2 separate regions of the Homo sapiens genome follow, and region 1 is linked to region 2. Evidence: fine-mapped expression QTL. A gene starts in region 2. The other region holds a variant in brackets. All regions are shown on one strand. Distances are between the middles of the regions.

What was found. PIP is the estimated chance that this variant, and not a neighbour inherited with it, causes the effect.
Region 1: its variant is fine-mapped to the expression of QDPR in monocytes (Quach 2016, PIP 0.95).

Annotation. Positions count from the first base shown.
Region 1 is chr4:17,477,805-17,483,181 of GRCh38, reverse strand. No RefSeq gene overlaps it. Among named protein-coding and RNA genes, the nearest start is that of QDPR, 32 kb to the left of the region's middle. The variant A/C (reference allele first, on the strand shown) is at 2,212.
Region 2 is chr4:17,509,606-17,514,982 of GRCh38, reverse strand. It overlaps QDPR (quinoid dihydropteridine reductase), which reads left to right and starts at 2,893. Exons shown (of 7, transcript NM_000320.3): 1 at 2,893-3,033. The coding sequence starts at 2,929. RefSeq lists a silencer at 2,685-3,264.

The sequences.
Region 1 (5,377 bases), 32 kb after region 2:
CTGAGGAAAGTCTGTGTGAGGACACAGCAAGGAGGCTGCCGTCCACAAGCTGAGAAGAGAGCCCTCACAAGAGATGGAATTGACTGGAGCCTCAGTCTTGGACTTTCAGCCTCCAGAACAGAGAAAATAAATGTGTGATGTTAAGCCACCCACTCTGTGGTGTTTTGTTATGGCAGCCCACACTAATACAGGCAGTGATGGAATATCTCGTGAGGAAGTGACGTTTGAACACATCTGAAAGAAAGTGTAGAAGGCAGCCAAGGGCATCTGAGGTAAGGACATTTTAAGACAGAGGAACCAGTCATTGCAAAGAGCCTGAGGCAGTAGTGTACCAGGTGGGGTGAGGAACACAGGGAGGCTGGGTTGGCTGGGGCAGAGAATGGAGCAAACAGAGGGGCAGTTTCAGGAGATAAGATCAGACAGATGATTGTGTAGGGTAGGGGTCCCCCAATTTTCTAGGCCCACAGTGCCCTTAGTGTCTCAGTAATTTTTTACAATGCCCCTACATCAAAGAAACTAACTAATGATTTGGATTTACAAGTGGTTGGGTTCTAACAATTTTATAGTAGTAATATGACTGATATTGCTCTATGACCTAGAACATGGAAAGTACCCTGTAGAGTCCCTGTGAATGCTGCCTTGGAGTGCCTTGGTGCACAGTTTGGGAATAGCAAATGTAAGGGGGTGTTGGGCATTTTAAGGATTTGGTTTTGGATTTTGGGAACTACCGCAAGGATTTTGAGCGAAAGAGTGGCATGATATATTTTAAAAGATTGCTCTGGCTGTTGTGTTGAGGATAGTACTGAGGTTTTTGCAAGAATCCAGGCAAGAAATGACAGTGGTTAGGGTGGTAGCAGTGGAGGTCGTGAGAGGAGAATTGGGAAATGGTGGATATTTTGAAGACAGATTCAAGAGGATTTCCTGGTGGATTTAATGTGACGGTAAGAGAGAAAAGAGTCAGTGATGTCTCCCAAAGTTTTTCACGTGAGCAAATGGATTAAGTTAGCAAGTGTGATAGAGAAGGCTGTGGATAGAGCAAGTATTGGGAGTATCTGGAGTGTTGTTTTGGACATAGAGGTTTACTCTATTAATACCCCAGTGGAGATGTTAAGTGGGCAGTTGTATTAAGTCTGGTGTTTGAGAGAGAGAGAGATCTAGGGGTCCTGAGAGATCTGGGGGTCCTAAGCAGTTAAAGTTATGAGACTAGGTGAGATCACTAAGGGAATGTGTTGGCCAGGGTCCAGAAGACAGAAGCCATGCAGTATTGTGAATGAGGTCAGTGTAATATAAAGAATTATCGAGTAGCAAAGATTAATTCTAAAAGGCTAATGAGAACTCTGAAGAATATTCTTGTGCCGAGGGACAGCACTTGAGGAACAAATTTGGAAGACAAGTCCCTCCCCAAGGCTGGGACCTGAGCTTCATTGGAGAAGGTATGGCGGTGGACATAGAGTAGGACATAGAGAGGTGGACATGGAGAAGTTATGGCACTGGACAGCAGAGTTTGTTGGGTTCCCTGGGCCTGTGTTGGTCTACAGCCACTGGGGAAGCAGGAAGCACCCTGCCAGGGTGCATGAAGTGCTGCTGGATGTCCCTCACATGTACATGGTAACCATGTGGCAGGAACCATATGGAAGCACACCAGAACCAGGAAAGGAAGCCCCCTCCTCCAACACTCTGTGTTGGCAAAACTGAACATTGTATCAGCTATGCAGGAGAAATGTTTACAGAGTCCAGTTCCATTATTGCAGAACAGTCAATGAAGGGTGGCTTTGGAGCAGAGAGGAAATAAATTGGAAACTGGCAATACACTAAATATGTGAGAAGAGAAGAGAAGAAGATAATTTCTCTGATAATAGGGAGAAAAAAAATCAACAAAAGGGCACTGAAAGAGAACAACCAATAAAGTAGGAGAAAAAGTAAGAATGTGGTGTCCCAGGAATAAAGTGAAGAAAGTATCAAGAAGGGAGGGAATGAGCAGCAGTGTTGAATGCTGTGAGAAGTCAAGTAAGATAAGGGCTATAAAAACTGACCATTGGACCCAGCTGTGGGGAGGTCCTTGCGATCTTGACAAACAGTTCAGTAGAGTAATGGGGAGTAGGGAATATTCGAGTGGGGTTATGAAAGCATGAGAGGAGAGGAAATGGTGTACAGACAACTTTAACTTAGGTTAGGTACTTTGTTGGAATCTTCTAAACTTTATCCTTGAAC[A/C]GAATCTGGAAAACTCTACCAGGTTTTTGAATCTGTTTGTTCTCACAGGTATGCTTTATAGCTGAAATCATTTCTTAGGGAATTGATCAGATACATGTAATTTGAAGCCTGGCTTATTGAATTTTAGCTTCCCTCAGCCCGAACTTGCCTGAAGACAGCTTGCCTCTAGGTGCTAATTTCCTGCTACATTCCAGATTGTGGCTTCTGCCCCCTTCCAAATGGGCTGTCACCAGCTTGGAGGTCAGCCTGCATGTTCCTGGAAGCTGAGAGCGTACACAGCTTCTAGGAATAGAACAGCATGCCATGGGGCTCCTCCAGAGTACTGGGGAGGAACCCGCTGTGGTCTGTTCCATTAAACAATTGTGACTTTTTCTTTGGAACTTTCAGTGTGAGTATAACCTACACCTAGAAGCAATATAGAGTTATAGAAGGGCCCTGAGTCAGGTCACATGAATTTGGACATAGTTCTTCCATTTACTTGCTGTAGAACCTTGAGAATATTTCTTACATCTCCATATCTCAGTCATATGAGAAACGGGAACATTATCATGATCTCCAGGGATTAAACAAATGAATGCATGCAAAAGGACTGGCATATAGAAGTGCTCAGAAAGTATTGGTTGTTATTCTTATTATCTGTTTCTAATTTTATATGGAAGTATGACGGGAAAGTAAAGTTCATGTCACACAGCACGTGGCAATACTTCGGTTCTTATTGCCAAATAATATTCCATTGTATGGTTATGCCACATTTTATTTGTCCACTCATCAGTTGTTAGACATGTGAATTGTTTCTGCTTTTTGGCCATAGTCAGTTATGATGCTGTGAACATTTGCAAAACTCACCTTTTGTGTGAACATATATTTTCATTTCTTTTGGTACATGCCTACAAGTAGAGTTATTGAATATCAGTTGGTGACTCTATATTCAACCATTTTAGCAATTACTAGACTGTTTTCCAAAGCAGCTGCACCATTTTACATTTCCACTGGTAGTGTATGATGGTTTTAGTTTTTCCACATGTCCAGTCCAGTCAGTCTTGATTTACATGTCTCCAGTCAGATAAGTCCATCCTCTTCCTCCTATGGTGAGGAGCAAGTAAGGACCTCAAGGTCTCATTTGTCAGAGTGCCACAAGTATTACATAATTTTTAATTCAGTTGGTATCTTAATTTTGGTTTTCTTAAAAATCGGCACTGATTGCTTGATTATAGGTTGTCTCTTTTTGATTATAGCCATCCTAGTGGGTGTGGAGTGGCATCTCATTGTGATTTTGATTTGTATTTCCCTCATAGCTGATGATGTTGAGCATCTTTTCATGTACTTGTTGGCTATTTGCATATGGTGAAATGTCTGTTCAGATCCTTTGCTCAATTTTTAATAATATCCTTTTATTACTGAATTCTTAGATTCTCTATATACTCTAGATACAATTCCCTTATCAGATAAGTGATTTGCCACACCTTTCTTTCATTCAGTGGGTTGTCTTTTCACTTTATTGATGGTGCCCTTTGAAGAACATAATTTTTAACTTTGATGATTTCCATTTGCACATAAGCTTTCGTTTCTCGCTGTTTTCTAGGGAACCTGGACTAAGCACCTGAGTGAGGTAGATATTAGTTCCATATCTGGTGAGGGAACTAAGGATCATAGAGTTTAAGTTATTTTCCCAAACCACATAGCCGGTGTAGAAAGAAGCCAGAATTTGCACTGAAGTCTGTGAGATCCCTTATGGACAGGGTGCAGGACATACTAAGTGTGAGTTGAGCTTGCACATTGGAAGGCTGGGCATGGTGGCTCCCAGCCACTATGGGAGGCCTAGGTGGGTGGATCACTTGAGCCCAGGAGTTAGAGACCAGCCTGAGCAACATAGTAACACCCCCTCTCCACAAAAAAATACAAAAATTAGCCCAGCATGGTGGCACATGCCTGTAGCCCCAGCTACTCGGGAGGCTGAGGTGGGAGAATCACTTGAGCCTGGGAGGTTGAGGCTGCAGTGAGCTGTGATCATGCCATTGTACTCCAGCCATCATGGAGTGAGACCCTGATTTGGTTTGGCTGTGTCCCCACCCAGATGTCAACTTGAATTGTGGCTCCCAGAATTACCATGTGTTGTGGGAATGGAAGGGAACCAGGGGGAAGTAATTGAATCATGGGGCCGGTCTTTCCCATGCTATTCTCGTGGTAGTGAATAAGTCTCACGAGATCTGATGGGTTTATCAGGGGTTTCTGCTTTTGTTTCTTTCTCATTTTTCTCTTGCCGTCACCACGTAAGAAGTGCCTTTTGCCTCCCGCCATGATTCTGAGGCCTCCCCAGCCATGTGAAACTGTAAGTCCAATGAAGCCTCTTTTTCTTCCCAGTCTTGGGTATATCTTAATCAGCAGCGTGAAAACGGACTAATACAGACCCTATCTCAAAAACAAACAAAAAGAGATTGCACATTGGCACTTGGTCCCTGAATGTGCTAATGATATGTGGCATTCATGGGCCATCTGCTGTGTGTGTGGGGTTTTACATACATCCTTCCTTGTATATCCTTAAGGCATTCACCTCTTCAGCCTCCAGGATGGGAAGGTTTTTGCAGGAATGTATCTTTTCCTCTCTTGAGGTCCTCACTTGCTCCTCACCATAGGAGGAAGGACGGATTTATCTGATTGGAGAGACTGTAAATAAAGACTGACTGGAACATATGGACCAGGGGCGGGTCTGCTGCATGGACTTTGGGCTGTGTGGGTTGCTCACTCTCCTGCCCTCTTCTTGCCTATGCAGAACTGATTTCTCACCTCTACCTTCCTGTCTGTTCCTGGTGGGTTAGGAACGTAGAGGAGAGAAGGGATGAAGATTAGTTTCTCTTACCCCCTGAAGCATTATTTTTCACAGTGCCTCTCCACCTGTTCAGTGTTGAGTAAGTGCTGAATGAGTGGACAGGGAAACAGCCTTGGAGAAGCTTACTATCCCGCACATCCCTACTAAGTGATGCAAATGAGTCAGGGAGCCGGGGTCCACACCCAAGCGCCACCCTTGGTGGTTTGTATGATTCTCTGGTTAGGGAGGCATGACGGTAACATCTCCTCCTGTTTATTCCTGCCATCTGCTGCTTTGTCCGCCTCTCATCTCCTTGGTGGCTTCCTCCATGCAGCAGGTTGGTGGACACAGGTGCACTTT
Region 2 (5,377 bases):
AGACTGTTTAACTGTTCCTCGTTTCAAGTATTTAAATAGCCCTGGTGTGGACCTCGTAATGATAAAGGAGTTAGTAATAAGCAAAATCAGGTAGCTCTGAAGATTAAGAGACGCAAACCAATCTCAAAAAATGCATGTGTTAGAAGGAAAACAAAAACAGAATGATTAGCACTTGAATATTGCCAACAATGCGCAGTATCAAATGTCGATCTCGCTGATGCATGGGTGCCCTGGCATTTCTTTCTCTGAAATGTCACTGCTGTCAGAATCTTTAGGACTGTTATTAATACCATCAAATGACCCCGGTTCTTGGGGCTTTAATATTGAAATGTGTAAATAGGGCCTTATGAATTTCTCACTGTGTGAATCTGCTGGGGGTAAACTGTGACTAGAATTACTTTGTGGCTGTTGGGGTAGCCTGGAATCCAACACTTAACATTGCTCTCACCCGTCCCTCCTTCTACGTTATCTGAAATGGGAGAGAAAAGTGTTTTTCTAGTGTATTAGCAAATAGTAGCCACACTGCTGGGGTATTCATCTCTTCTAATAGTGGAAGATCTAGGCTTTCCTTTTAATCTGTAGATACTAGGAATGAAATATTCTTTCCTTTCTATCTTATACTGTGGACTTTGACATTTTGACTTTTACCTTATTCCTGAATATCAACTTAACATCATGTGAGACTGGCAACAGTCACTCTATCCATATCTCTGGGGAGCAAAGTTGGGCAAAAGTGGAGCAGTAAAATTTCTTAGTTGGTCACAGAAGCCTGAAGGGGGGTTCAGGAAGTTGCACTGTTAACCAATAGGGGTCCCAGGAATCTCACTTGGAGAGTGTCAAGGAAGCAGAGGGACACATTAATGGAAATGTCAGTTTCCTTCCTCGCAACTGGGGCTCACTTCAGTGGCCACTCCACAATGAAAATAAAAATGAGAATTTCTGAGCCTGGGCAATGTAGTGAGACCTTATCTCTACAAAAAATAAAAAAAAAAAATAGTTGGGCCTGATGGCGTGTATTTGTAGTCCCAGCTACTGGAGGCTGAGGCTGGAAGACTGCTCCAGCCCAGGAGCTCAAGGCTGTAGTGAGCTATGATCATGCCACTCTGAGTAACAGAGTGAGATCCTGTCTCTTACTATATATACAGATGAGTGGCACTTTACCATGTACAAAATGCAAAATGCTTTGACCATATGCTTGCTCACCTCTGATGCTCCAGCAACCCTTTAAGGTAAACAGGAGATGCACGATTTCAGCCATTTCTCTCATGAAAAACTGGATGTCAGTGCTGGGGCTGAAATTCAGGTCTTTGAATTACAACAGCTCATCTTCATCCCAGTGACTTTGAAACAGCAAATGTTTTTCTGGTAAAAAATAACAGAATACATATAAAAGGCTCAGAAGACTGCTTGGCACATTAAGTGATCAATAATGTTAGTTCACGTTCTTATTTTAACATTAAGCATGCTTTGACAAGTCAGGACTTGCGTAAATATCATTGAGTCATATTTCTGCCGTCAGTGAGGGACCTGTGTCAACTTTTGGTGTTTTGAGGGTTAAGCAATTGTTTTCAGAAAAACTCTAAGGGAAACACTTGATTCCCAACAAGCCTTTGTCTTGCTGAACAAAGGTGTGGTTAAGTGGAACTCTAGCTATTGAAGACCTGTGTTCAAATTCCCACTCTTCCAGACAAGTGTCTGTGACTCTCATGCCTCAGCTTTCTAATCTGCATAGGATTATCGTGTGGAGTAAAGTGAAATAGCACAGGCAGATCACTTAGCGCAGTGCCTTGGATATAAGGAGCACTAAATAGATGGTGCTCTCCTCTCCATCCAGCCTCCTAGCAGTTCTATTTCTGATAATGAAGCTTCTGACAACAAAATGTGCTGCTGGCTGCATCCTCTTCTCTAGTGACATATTTCTGCATGCTTTACCTGGCACAAGTTTACTGAACAAACATCTGTGTCTGCTGTGTACAAGGTTATATGTGGATGGGAAGTGACACAAAGATGTATGTAATACAGGGTTCTGCTATCAAGAAGGTTATGAGAGTGTTAGAGCTCTGGTTCTCTATCAGTGATGAATTTGCCCCTAGGAGACAACTGTTAAATCTGGAGATATTTTTGATTCTTATGAGTGAGGGGTAGGGGTTTGCTATTGATTTCTAGTATATGCAGGCCAGGGATGCTGTAAATATCCTACAGTACCCAGGGCAGCACCTGTCACAAATAATTATCTGGCCCAAAATGTCAGTAGTGCTGTAGATGAGAGGCTCTGTGTTAAAGATACAGGCCATGGGCAGAAATAACTAATATACAAGGGAGAAAATGCCAGGATCTGTGTCTGGCGATGGGTGGCATATAGTAAAAGGGCCATTTGGATTAATGGGTATAAATTTACGGTTAGATAGAAGAAATAAGACCTAGTGTGGTTTGTCTCGTCTCGGCGGTGGACTTTCAGCTCCTTGAGCGGAGCGACCTCTTCTGTTTTTTTGGCAGGTGGGAATACTTAAATCTCTATTTTGATGCACAATTAAAAATAAAAAATTGCCAAAACAGTGGTCGAAAATTGTACTATACTATATTTTACATGCTTACACTTCACAAATTAATGCTCGTAAAACACCCGCTCTCCACCCTCCTCGCCCTTAGCCCGGCTCGCTGCACGCCCCGAGGCCCAGCACTTGCTGGCGGGTGGGAGGAGGGGCTTCGCCGATGTCCCCGTCCCAGGGGCAGGGCCTGGCCGAAGTTACAGTCCCTCCGGGTGGCGGGGCGCCCCGAGCGTGGCAGCGCGCTAGGCGGCAGCAGCGGGCGCGGAGCGGGGCGCGGCCGCCGCGCGTTCCCTCTTGGCGGGGTTGGCCGGCCGGGGCGGGGCGCGGCGCTCCGGCTCGAGGCATTCGGAGCTGCGGGAGCCGGGCTGGCAGGAGCAGGATGGCGGCGGCGGCGGCTGCAGGCGAGGCGCGCCGGGTGCTGGTGTACGGCGGCAGGGGCGCTCTGGGTTCTCGATGCGTGCAGGCTTTTCGGGCCCGCAACTGGGTAATGCTGCGGGCTGGGGCTGCTGGGTCTCCGCGGGGGTGGCCGGGGGCTTTCGTGTGGAACCCGGCGGGGGGCAGTCTAGAGGAAGGTGGGGGCCCCTGTGCACCCCCTGACTCGTGTTGCTTGCACGTGCGCGCACAGGTCTACGCGTCTATTCCTGTTTCCGAGTGCGTGCGCACGCCAGTCCCAGGGCGCTGGGCCTTTGCTGTGCAAGGAGGTGCTCCGTGGGCCTCCGCCAGACCCAAAAAGTCCGGCGTGACTCGGGAGAGAATTCCAAAGGGGAGGAACGGGAGCAGGGGTGAGAGGACGGAGAGAGAGTGTAGAAGGAAGGCTCTAGAATGAGACAGCCCAGTCCCGGTTACTAGTCATGAGACCGCGTATTGATTACCTAACGCCGTAGGACCTCGGTTTCCCCATTTGTACAACGGAGATTCTGACAGTGAGAGTTGGGACGATTAGATGAGATAATTGGTGTCGTTGCACATAAATTACCTGACGCCTGGTAAAAACTGTTTAAATGCTGTCTATTAATGTTACTATTACTACCCACCCCTGTTCTTTTAGCCCCATTGGATCTGACAGTTTGAAGGCTCAGCACGGAAAAACGCTGACGGCTTCTTTGCTCTGCAAAGACTATTTCAACTACTTTGCATAGTCAGGTGTCAATTTCCAGGAGGCGGCAAGTCGGAGCAGAGCTGATACATGGCCAAAGACCCTTGACCTCAGCCGCTCAGCAGGCCTCAGCAATTTCCCGGTGGAGACACTGCCAGCGGCAGCGTTCTGGGAGCTTAGTTAGCAGCAGCAGCACAGCAGCCTGGGCAAGAGTTCCCCTGGGACCAGAAAAAGGCTTTCAGGATTTTCTTTAAAAAAAAACTATCTAATTTTTATAGATGAAGGGGGCAAAAGTACAGTTTAGTTACATGGATATGTTGTGTAGTGGTGAAGTCTGGGCTTTTAGTGTAACCATCACCCAAATAGTGTACATTTACCAAGGTTTTCTTGTTGCTCAGAATCTGGTACAGGAATATGCTTCTGAAGAATTCAGTCACACCACTCCCTTCCTGCCACCCATCTGCTCAGTGCTTGGGGACACTGATGAGGGCGCTTTCCCAGGTCTTCAGAGATGCATGGTGGTGACAGAGGCAGCACTTCTGCCAAGGGCCAGGCACTGTGTTCCCAGTACCAGAGTTCCCATAGACTCTTAATGCCCCCAATATCTTTAAGGCAGTAGATCCTGTTAGCGTCATGTGTTAGAGGGTGAAGGCTGTGCTTTCTCCTGGTGGTGGCACTTTGGTTTACCTTGGTCTTGGCAGAATCTGGAGAGCTGATTTACCTCTGGCTCTTGGTCTTTCCCCTCCGAGCTTCTTCCTGCCATCTTAGGGAGGGCTAGGATGATGGAGACTTTTCATTGTTTCAGTATCCCCCATGGGATAACAAGTTAATTAATAATATAACAAATGTTGATGAATAGATGCTGTGTTTACAGCTTAAGGTAGAGATAATTATCTCTGGGGACTTCAGACCAAGAGACCCTGAGTAAGGACTGAACATCCCCTGTGCCAGGAGCTTTAGCATCTTCCATTTCATTTAATTCTTACACTGACCCTGTTAATCATCAACAAACAACCTCTTTTGTTGGGAACCTCTGCCCGGCATCGGAGTGAGAAAGCCACTCTGGCAGAGCTGGGATTCAAACCTGATCTGTCTGATTTCCAATCCTAAAGTCCATCCCTCTCTGCTGCAGGACAGGGATCCTTTGTGAGCTGAATCTGGTCTGCCACCTGTTTTTGTACAGCCCAAGAGTTAAGAATAGTTTTACATTTTCAGGTGGTTGAAAAGAAAATCAAATGAAGAATTATATTTTGTTGTATATGAAAATTAATGAAATTCACATTTCAGCTCTGAAGATTTATTGGAACACAGCTGCACTTATTTTTTCCCCCTATTTATTGCTGTGTTCTGTTACAATTGCAGATTTGAGTAACAACAGATACCATATGGCCAGCAAAGCCTAAGGTAATTGTGATCTGGCCCTTTACAGAAAATTTGCTGGCCCTTGATGTCTCTAGAAGTGCAGGGTTTGTGTTTTAGAGGTGAATGTGGAGGCGGAGTAGAGTGTTTGGAGGTAGGAGGGCCTGGGATGGAGCCCAATATAGGGTGTGTTTTCATTGAAGCCTCTTACCTGTCTCCACTCTGCTCCTTTATTTTTCTTTCTTTTTCTTTTTCTTTTATTTAAATGGAGATAAGGCCTCCTTCTGTTGCCTAGCCCGGAGTACAGTGGTGCGATCATAGCTCACTGAGCTCAAGTGATCCTCTCGCCTCAACCTCCCGGGTAGCTGGGGCT